Homo sapiens: one gene and its partners. The protein of the gene in region 1 interacts with the protein of each later gene in a pairwise test. Each region holds a gene or a part of one and is shown on either strand. Other genes may lie near its edges. The genes, in order: RANBP3, ANKS1A and CHN2.

What was found.
Region 2: the proteins of RANBP3 (region 1) and ANKS1A interact in a two-hybrid assay, tested with the Homo sapiens proteins (one large-scale study listed by BioGRID and IntAct).
Region 3: the proteins of RANBP3 (region 1) and CHN2 interact in a two-hybrid assay, tested with the Homo sapiens proteins (one large-scale study listed by BioGRID and IntAct).

Annotation. Positions count from the first base shown.
Region 1 is NC_000019.10:5,918,973-5,922,704, reverse strand, and holds part of RANBP3 (ran-binding protein 3), read left to right. Parts: intron 1-1,383; coding exon 1,384-1,504; intron 1,505-3,732. UniProt on the Homo sapiens protein: Acts as a cofactor for XPO1/CRM1-mediated nuclear export, perhaps as export complex scaffolding protein. Bound to XPO1/CRM1, stabilizes the XPO1/CRM1-cargo interaction. In the absence of Ran-bound GTP prevents binding of XPO1/CRM1 to the nuclear pore complex.
Region 2 is NC_000006.12:34,892,255-34,895,754, forward strand, and holds part of ANKS1A (ankyrin repeat and SAM domain-containing protein 1A), read left to right. Parts: intron 1-3,500. UniProt on the Homo sapiens protein: Regulator of different signaling pathways. Regulates EPHA8 receptor tyrosine kinase signaling to control cell migration and neurite retraction.
Region 3 is NC_000007.14:29,502,186-29,505,917, forward strand, and holds part of CHN2 (beta-chimaerin), read left to right. Parts: intron 1-2,558; coding exon 2,559-2,636; intron 2,637-3,732.

The DNA of each region.
Region 1 (3,732 bases):
GCCTCCCAAAGTGCTGGGATGACAGGCGTGAGCCACCACGCCCAGCCCGAGACATTTTTGATGGTTCAGGGAATGACAAAGACTGTCATACCAAACATATTCTCTTGTCGCCCAGAGCTGGCAACTGTATTATTTGTCACCTGGCATCCTGTGGTGTCTTCGTAGGGAAAAGATCAGGTGCGGCCAGAGGTTCCACCCCACCGTCCCCTCCTGGCATCCCCCATTCCTGCTCCTCAGGCCGCACCACCCGGCTTGGGCAGCATCCATGTGCTTCCTCTCCCGTGGCACATAAGCAGGTGTCTGTGTCTGTAAACCGGGTGGCGTATCGTGGCGTTCTTAAGAGCACTGTTCTTTTTTCCCACTTACCACTTTGTCATCTGTTCATGTTGAAAGAGATTGACTTAGGGGGTATGTGGAAAGCCATGTAGGGGTGTCTGTCTCGTATTTTTCTTTGTTTATATATACAAAACTGCTGTATTGAAATATAGTACAAATGCTATATAATCCATCCTTTTAAAGCATACAATTCCGTGGTTTCTAGTATATTCACAGAGTCAGACAACTTTCACCAGAATCTAACGTACAACATTTCTGCCCCCAAAAAGAACACTGTCCCATTCCCCCAGAAAGAGCATTGTCCATTCGCAGTAACTCCTCCTCCCTCCCCAGCCCCTGGCAGCCACAGATCCACTTCCTGTCTCTGTTTTTTGCCTGTCCTTGACATTTCATATAAATGGCATCAACGCACTATGTGGCCTTTCGTGTCTGGCTTCTCTCGCTGAGCCAGAGGTTCATCCACGTTGCAGCGGGGGTCGGAGCCTTGTTCTTTATTAAGACTGAGTGAGATGCGCTGTAGGGGCGGACCATGTGTGTCACTCCATTCCTCCTTGAGACTTGGCTACCGTGAATGATGGTGCTGTGCACGTTCATGTGCGATCTGTGTGTGAACACGAACAAATGTTCCATTTCTCTTGGGTACATACCGAGGAATGGAATTGCTTGGGCATGTGGTAATTCCTTGTTAAGCAGTTTGAGGAGCCGCCAGACTCTTCCACAGCAGTGGCACCATGCGGCCTTCCCGCCAGCAGTGTGTGAGGGTTCCAGCTTCCCCACATGGGTATAGCCGTCCTAGAGTGCGCAGAGAGGCTTCTCACCGTTGTTTTGCTTTTCATTTCCTTAGTGATTCTTTTAATTTCAGATACCCCTTATACAATGTAAAGCCTGTTCTAGCTTGAGGGCAGGACAAAAAACTGACCAAGGTGGCCCCCAGGCCGTCGTTGGCTGGCCCTGGCAGTCCCCACAGGCTAAAGGGCGACTCTCAGGGTGTGGCTGCAGCAGGACACCAGCTGGGGTCCCTGCTTACCGGCGGCCACTGTGTTCCAGATGCAGTGCAAGCTGTTTGTCTTTGACAAGACCTCACAGTCCTGGGTGGAGAGAGGCCGGGGGCTGCTCAGACTCAATGACATGGCGTCCACCGATGACGGCACACTACAGTCCCGACTAGGTGAGCTGCCGACGGCGGGGGCTGTGGCCGGGTCCCCATGGGGAGGGCTGGGGACTATGCAATTCCAAAGGGAATGAAGCGGGGGAGATCCTGACCCTACCCTTGTGAGAGTCAAGGCACAGAGTCGGTCTCCCATGAGAGCCGCCCCCCAAACCCCCTCCCTGCACCCAGCCCTCAACACCACCCTCACACACTGGCTCCAGCTGCCAGCTCGTCCGTGACCCTCTTAGTGTCAAAATGGACAAAAGTCTATGGAAGTTTTTAAGCTGATTTTCTGACAAAGTGGCAGGTTTATGATAGAAAGGAAAATGAAATCAAACATCAAGTCTAATCTCTTGATAAAGACAAATTTTGGCCAGGCGCAGTGGCTCACGCCTGTAACCCCAGCACTTTGGGAGGCCAAGGTGGGCGGATCACCTGAGGTCAGGAGTTCAAGACCAGCCTGGCCAACATGGCAAAACCCTGTCTCTACTAAAAATACAAAAATTAGCCGGGCATGGTGATACATGTCTGTAATCCCAGCTACTCGGGAGGCTGAGGCAGGAGAATTGCGTGAACTTGGGAGACGGAGATTGCAGTGAGCCGAGATTGAGCCACTGCACTCCAGCCTGGGCGACAGACCAAGACTCCATCTCAAAAAAAAATAAAATATACTGTTTTTGAAAAGCTTTCATGTTAATATTCCATTGACAGTCAATGGACTTTTCCCTATTGGTGGACATTTAGCTTGGAGTACCTGCATACACACACCCACTTAAGGAAATCAGCCTGTGTGTGTGCACATTTGAAATGTGGGCGTGTCTTTTTTTTCCTTCTAAAGCTGATTTCACTCCATCACCCAGGCTGGAATACAGTGTGATCATCGCCTCAAATTCCTGGGCTCAAGTGATCCTCCCACCTCAGCCTCCTGAGTAGCTGGGACTACAGATGCACCACCACGTCTGGCTAATGTTTTTATTTTTGTCTTTATAAAGACAGGTCTCCCTGTGTTGCCCAGGCTGGTCTTGAGCTCCTGGCATCAAACAGTCCTCCCACCTCAGCCTCCCAAAGCGCTGGAATTACAGGCGTGGGCCACTGCGCTGGGACCATCTTTTTGTTTTATCTTCCCAAATCAAAGTGTCTTCTGGCCTTTTCATAAATATGGGTTTCAGGCCCAGCAGTAACTCAAGCAGCCCCCTTGAAGGGTAGTGTTCATGCACTTCAATCAGAAACACTGCTCTGGTCAGAACAGACAGGGGATGTCCCTGCAGGCTGGGACTGCTCTTTTGTTCCCCATGGACGTCTTTTTTTTTTTTTTTTGAGACGGAGTTTTGCCCTTGTTGCCCAGTCTGGAGTGCAGTGGCTTCGTTTCGGCCCACCGCAGCCTCCACCTCCCAGGTTCACGCGATTCTCCTGCCTCGGCCTCCCGAGCAGCTGGGCTTATAGGCACCCGCCACCAAGCCTGGCTAATTTTTTTATACTTTAAGTAGAGACAGGGTTTCTCCACATTGGTCAGGCTTGTCTCGAACTCCTGACCTCAGGTGATCTGCCCACCTAGGCCTCCCAAAGTCCTGGAATTACAGGCTTGAGCCACTGTGCCCAGCCTTATGGACGTCTTCTTGTGTTTTTCCTTTTGTCTCGTGGAAATGTTCAAATGTCCATGGAAAGAGAGGGCATAGAGCCCTGAGCCCCCAGGTCATCCCCTCTGCCTGGGTCATCAGCCTGTAGCCCCGTGGCAGCAGTACCCTCCCCAGCTTCAGGGAGAGCAAAATCACCTCTGTCTTTCTCCCACTCGGCCTCTGAGGTGGGCACCTGGGCTCAGGGAGGTCTGTTCGCTGGGCCAGGGCAGGGGGACAAGTTTCTGACCGTCTCCAGGCCTGCTCCAGTGGGGAGAGGCGGCTGGCAGGAAGGTAGGGGCTTGGCTGAGTCCACGGGGTGGGCCCAGGCCAGGCGCAGGGGTGTTGCATCCTCTAGAAGAGTCAGGGCCCTCCCATTTTCCTCCGTAATCTGCTGCCCACAGTCCTCTCGTCTCCTCTCCATGGAAGCGCTAAGCTGCGGTCCTACTCTGCCTTCTCCTAAGGAAACCAGAGGGCAGGGCTGGCCCACTCAGGGGAGGCCAGTCAGGAGGACGTGGACTCCCATGGAGGCCGATGTCTCACACACACAGAAAGCGCATGCACCTTGAGTGTCAGCCCCTGCCTCCCGCAGCCCACCCCGTACTCCTCTCTAATCCCCCCTTCTCCAAGGGA
Region 2 (3,500 bases), on another chromosome or scaffold:
CTCTGGTTAAAGCTAGTAAAAGATTTCTGAGCAAATGAGACCATGCCTAGGTCAGTATGTCCTCCCTTTTTAGATGTGGACATAGTGAAGGGTAGGTTACCTCTGCTCCCAACCCTCTCTCCCCTAAAGACCCTGGATTATTTAATGAGAGCTGTGGAATCATAGCTTCAGATTTGGCCTTTGTATTAGCGGCCATATTCTACCCCTATTTGTACTGCCAACTGTAACTTGCCTGAAGTAAAGCTGGCAGAAATAGGAGCTTACAGTTGCAGTGGAATAATTGTTCCAGACCACACATGTGTTTGTGTATTCACCTGTTTGTGTTCCCCCATCCCGTATTCCACAAAGGCTTTGTGTTTATTCTTAAGCTAAAAAATGCCCTCTTCTCTTACCCATCCCTTTTCCTCTACACAGCTTGGGCTTAGGTTTTAACTTCTTAAAGCCCTTCCTGATGACCCTAATACACACAGATCTCTCAAGCTTCCATGTCTTTGGAGCACGTCATCTGTAGTGTACTTTGCTTGCCTAGCTTTCACAGTTGATCGCTTTGGCCTGTCAGTATAATGTTTACATATAGCAACCCTCACCGATTGATGCTATACCTGAGAATCAGAAAGTCAGCAAAGAAGACTTCTACTAGAAAAACATGTTGTTACAAACTTTGTGTTCTTCTAGCCTTCCTTATTTACTGGATATTTATTCAGGAACAGTATAGCATTATACTGTCCACTTTTTCTTAGCATTAAGCATGTTATAGCATTAAGACCACTTGTTTTTGTGTCAGACTTCCTGGATTCACATTCCACTGCCACCACTGACTAGCTGCTTGACATTATTCAAGTTAACCACTTTGATACTCAATTTCTGCATCTGTAAAATGGGGATAATACTATCTGCCTTATAGGTATCATCTTAGATAATGTGTGTACGGGACTTACCATAATTCCTGGCATATTCTAAGTCCTCAGTCTTAGTCATCCTCAGTTCAGCACATACGGTTTTGCTGTGTTGCACCTGTTCTGTGCAAAGTACCATGCCAGACACATTATTTATTTTTATTTTTGTAGAGATCGTGTCCCACTATGTTGCCCAGGCTAGTCTCAAACTCCTGGGCTCAAACGATCTTCCTGCCTCAGCCTCCCAAAGTGCTGGGATTATAGGTGTGAGCCACAGTGCCCTGCCTGACACATTTTAAATGGTGTTTTTTCATGCTTGGGGATCTGTTTTCCAAGCATGGCAGACTAGAAAGAGTAAATAAGGGAGAGGAATCATTCATATACCCAATGTTTACCCATGATATACTTTGTGCCAGGCCAAGTGATTGCTAGATGCACTGCAAAATATGTCTGAGACCTGGGACATTGTACGTGGTCTGTCAGAATTAGCCCCTCTCTTCATACATGTTCTGTTCCCTTACAGAGTTTATAGTAGTATGATACGTCTGTGTAACAGGCCAACAAAAAGGAGACAGAGAAAGCACACAAATTTAGCATAATTTATCCTACCTCCCGGCTGTTTGAAGCTATTAACATAGGTGTATATAGCCCTATATACCTATGTAAGCCCCAAGCATCAGTTTACTGTATCTTTGTGCTATGATTTATGTTTATTATGACTGTTAGCCATCAAATAAAGATTAAATTATGTTCAATATAGCTTGTTAGTGAAAGAAGAAAAAAAATATAGTTTTCTATCCAAAATGGTTTAAATATAATTTTTTTACTTAAAAGGATAAGCAATAGATTATCTAGAAAGCACAGTTATCCAGAATGTCTAGGCTTACAGAGGCTCTGGATTGCATGGATTATACTTTATATAATACTAACTCATTTTCTGATTGTTTAATGGATGCATGCCTTCGGTCTATACCTTGGGAGCTTGGGATAGGCATTCTATCAAACTTCTTAACTTACAGTATTTTTTAGTTCTGGGCACGTAGCGGGCACTCAGATTCTCATGTAACAAGACAGTTTGCTATGTTTAGAGTTATAGTGAAATACTGATTTCCAAGAAAGAAACTCCTGTATAAGAATATTGTAAGATTTGGTTAAAAGTAAATTCTATCAACTAAAAGGCCAAAAAGATCTGAGAAAAGGAAATGTTAAAACCAATCATGGCCAGGCACAGTGGCTCACCTCTGTAATACCAACACTTTGGGAGGCTGAGGCAGCTGGATCACTTGAGCCCAGGAGTTTGAAACCAGCCTGGGCAACATGCTGAAATCCCATCTCTACGAAAAATACAAACATTAGCCAGGCGTGATGGTGTGCACCTGTAGTCCCAGCTACTCGGGAGGCTGATGTGGGAGGATTGCTTGAGTCTGGGAGGTTGAGGCTGCAGTGAGCCAAGATTGTTCCACTGCATTTCAGCCTGGGTGACAGAGCTAGACCACGTCCTCACACCACCACCCCCCAAAAAAAGAAGAAAAAAGAAAACCAGCCACAATAGCTTCAAACTGTAAATTGAGTTATGAACTAAATACTGATGTATATGAATGGAAAAGTAAAGTGAAATGTACTTCTTAGGGTTCAGAAGCACAGAGAAACTAAACCGAAGATCACAGTTGAGGAGATTATGTTATGGTTTAGGAATATTTTATGCTTAATTTCTCAAGCATGAGAAGGGTGAATAAGAAAAGAGGAAGCCAAGGAGACTTGCTGGAGAATCTGAAAATTTATAGATAGTAGCAATGAATGTGGCTTTAAACTAATTTTTATGCTGCCATTTCATTGGGGGAATAAAAGAAAAAGAAAACTATTCCAAAACAGATATGAATTTCCCAAGATGTGAAAATGTTCTGAAATAAGGAATGAAGCATGAAAAATTTTGAAAAATGGACCTCATTTGGAGGATAATAACAGATTCTCCCAAATGTCAGAAAATATGGCAAGTAATTCATTGTTGTAAAGAAAGCTTCCTAATATTTATTTAAGGACTTTGGTTTTTTTTTTTTTTTAATTAAAAAAAAAAATTTAAGAGACAGGAGTCTTGCTAATGTTGTCCAGGCTGACCTTAAACTCCTGGGCTCAATTGATCCTCCTGCCTCATCCTCCTGAGCTATTGGGACTGCAGGCACATGCCACCATGCCAGGCTAGACTTCTTCCTCTTGTTAGTGTTATTATTTTTTAAACAGTGATTAGCATAACCATTCTATTGAAATGGTCCTTTATTCATTCCCAGAATGGATCTGAACCTTGGAGATTATAATGGCGTGACAGCCTTTTCTCATGCTGACCTTTTTACTTTTGCCCACTACTGTGCCAGATTTCTTTTGAAAGTGCCTATTTTGAGCAAAATGATTTTAACATCTTAAGGAAGAGGGCAACACTGACCATGTAAGGATTGTAGAATGGAAGGGCCTGGAAACAGATCTTGTGGATTTGAATTTGTCTGATCTAAGTTCCTGCTCTTCTAAGAGAATGCAAAAACAAGATAAAATGCAACTATCCACTAGCATAGCAGTTTTCTGGGTCTTCCACTAAACTATCTTAATTAATTA
Region 3 (3,732 bases), on another chromosome or scaffold:
AGTGCCTTTGACAAGATAGAAATCTATTTCTTTGCCCAGTAATAGTCCAGGTACCCAGGAGCAGTCCAGGAATAGTCTGTTCCACCGTGGCAGGAACCCAGGCACTGCAGCTTGTTGCTCTGTCCTGCTTGAGTGCTATCCTGCGTGCACAATCACAGTTGGCCACCACCATCTCATCTGCATTTCACTTAACAGGAAGTGGAAAAGAGCATGCTCCATTCCTTCAAGGCCACAGAAGCTGTAAATGTCACTTCTGCTCTCACATGGGCCAGAGTTTAATGGCCACTGCAATGGATATTGTTCTAAAAATCAAAGGTTCCATTACAACAGAAGAATGGGAGAACAAATATTGGAAGGATAGCTGGCAACTTCTGCTACTCTGGCAAACTCTAACCATCCTTTATCATTTCCTTCAAAGATTAGCTTCTTAAAAAAGCATCTCGATGTAATACAGGGTGACGCTTTGCTCAGTGAAGCATGGGCTAAAGTCAGGAAAATTACCCCCATTTAATTATAATCCAAACCATACAACTTGGCATATTATATAAGGCATAGATTTTTTTTTTTAAAAGTGACGGGATACATGTGCAGAATGTGGAGGTTTGTTAAATAGGTATACATGTGCCATGGTGATTTGCTGCACCTATCAACCTGTCATCTAAGTCTTAGGCCCTGTATGCATTAGGTATTTGTCCTAATGCTCTCCTTCCCCTTGACCCCCACCCTCCAACAGGCCCCGGTGTGTGGTGGTCCCCTCCCTGTGTCCATGTGTTCTCACTGTTCAACTCCCACTTATGAGTGAGAACAAAAGCATGGATTTTTCTACGTTCCTTGAAAACCTGGATTTCTTTGAAAGTGACTCAGTGAATCTTATGGCTGAATGTTTGTGTCCCCTGCCCCACCAAATTTACATATTGAAGCCCTAATCTCCAGTGTGATTGTCTTTGGAGACGGAGGTCTCCAAAGAAATAATTAAGGCTAAATGAGGTCCTGAGGGAGGGACCCTAAACATTATGACTAATATCCTTATGAGAAGAGACACCAAAGAGCAAGCTCGCTCTCTCACTCTCCATGCACATATACCAAGGAAAGGACGTGTGAGAGAAGGTGGCCATCTATGAGCCAGAAAGAGAGCCTCACCAGAGGCCAGAACTTTGATTCATCCATCAACAGGCAGGGTTCATTGTTCACTGCTAGGGGCTCCCATAATCCACTGGGTCTGTGCCTCTGTGGCAGTGCATGTTCCAACTGGAATGAGATGTGCTCATATGCACCAACATCTTAGAACAGGATGACCCACAGGTTTCGTCTTGTGTGGCAACTCCAGTTGATCAGTAGTGGTCACCTGAACAATTGGAACTGAGATGAATTCTGAGGCTAAATAGGGCTCAGTGGGAAAAAGGGCTGAGATCAACTAAGAGTATCTGTCATGGTCACAGGAGGGATGAGGGGAAGTATTCGTGATTTACGCCACGTATTTGTTGTCTCTGATGCATACCTAATGAAGACCCTTATATATGGCAGATAATACATACTCCATAAATGTTTTCCAAATGAAAAAACAGGAGAATATGTGAGTTATCAAGAGTTTGGCAGAATATATGGCGGCAGCAGCAGAGGCTATTTGTTTGCTCATTTTTACTGTAGCTATAGTTTTGATAGCAGCTAGTTTGTGACATACAAAGTCTGAAACCCAGTCCTTTATCCCTGCTCATACTTTTGGGAACTGACTCGTTTTTAGGACATATCTTAACAAATCAATAAGCTCCAGGGACAGAAACCATGTCTTTTTTTCTTAGCCTAAATTTGCAGTGATCCAATTTCCAGAAGCAATAACCAAAACTTTATTTTCCTGCATCTGTTTGTATAATCAGTTGTCTAAAAGTATAACAAGTAACCGTTTTTAATTAAACAGTTAACATAGTCTTATTTACAAGTAAACATGAAAGGCTGTAATAGTCTAATTTTTTCCAATACAATCAGAGTAATACAGATTAGATACCCACATACATACATGTGTGTATCTAGTACAGTGCTACATACAATATAGCACATGGATTAAGATGATGCTAGGTACCCCATTTGCGCTGCTGTGATTATTACACATCTTATGCCTGTATCAAAATATCTCATATACCCCATAAATATATACACCTACTGTGTACCCACAAAAATTAATAAAGATGATGCTAGGAAGAAAGCCAGGTTGCTTCCTACGATGACGAAATTCATGTCCATCAAGCTCATGAACACAGGAAAGGAAGTAAGGGAACGGTCCATGGGAATCTTAAATATCAGTTCTCTTTGCAAAGCAGGGAAGGATGAAGACTGGATTTCCATTGAGATCTCCACTGCTACATGGGCAAATGAGAACAGACTTGCCTGGGAAATTGAGACAGACAAGTCCAAGTTCTGATGCAACAGTGTGTGATAAATAAAATCACTGTCTATGTTTGCTCATTTTCTGATAGCATGTAGTATAGACGTGAAATTAGTCTTTTTTTTTTTTTTAGATGTTTCAAGAAGCTAAAGTCAGTCTCTCTCTCTCTCTCTAACAGGATTAAAATCGGAAGGCCTTTACAGAGTCTCTGGGTTCACTGAACACATTGAAGATGTCAAAATGGCATTTGACAGAGGTAAGCTTGTACTTTCTTGAATGCCATCTGACATCCTAACACCCTTCTCGATTGGAAGTAGGTTTTAATCATAGTAGAAATGGGGTTTCAGAACTACTAAGAGTTGTTCTTCAAGAAACGGAGGAATAATGGCTTACAAATCTCATGTTTCTGCCTCACTGGGTGAAGTGTTACCTTCACAGCCATTGATAAGTGATCACTGTCAATGGGCAGACAATCCACATGGCATTGGAGTACCCATCTGCATCCCCTGTCTCAGAATCCCATTCTTCTCATTCTCTCAAAGCTCCAAAGAAGGGATCATAGGGATGGGAGGGCACCCCCAGCACTAATGTAGGGGAAGGCAGTGGACATGTAGGAGGGAACTGCTTTTGTTCTTTATAACTGTGGTGTATATTCTCTAGAACATACTATCTCTTAAGTCAGATATCATGGCCATCCTGGGGATCCTGTTAAAAATATGGGTCACTGGGACCCAACTTGAAGACTCATTCAGAAAGCTGGATAAGCCCAAGAATCTGTATTTTTAATAAGCAATCCAAATAATTCTGGTACAGCCAGTCAAGACATGGAAGCCCTACTGGATAGAGCCTACTGGATAGAGCCTCTACTTTGTAGTGTGGTATGTGAAATCAGTGAGGTAGCCCTCCCTCTCTCTTCAGACTTCTCTCCAGTTCCTCCTCCCTACTGTACTGCACACTCCAGCAATCCTGAAATACACCCTATTTGTTGCCATGAAGAAGTGCCTTGGCTCACATTGTCCTGTCTATCTGAAATGTATTCACCTCTCTGCCTGGCAAACACCTGTAATCAGGGGTCAGCTCAAGCCTTTCCTCCTTGAGGAAGCCTCGCTGACTACCCCAAGCTAACCTCAGAGCTCCACTTCCTTTTTCCACATCCCCCCACATTCTCCACACTTCTTCAGCATAGCAATCTTCCTATTTCCTTGTCATTGTTGAGTTGCATGTCTGTCAGTCAGTCTAACTAGAACTGTTGGTTGGCAGAGAGTATCTCTTTTCCATGGTTCATCAGGGCTTAATGGTGCTTGGCACATGACAGATTCCCAATAACTGTTTGCTAAATATGTAAATAATGA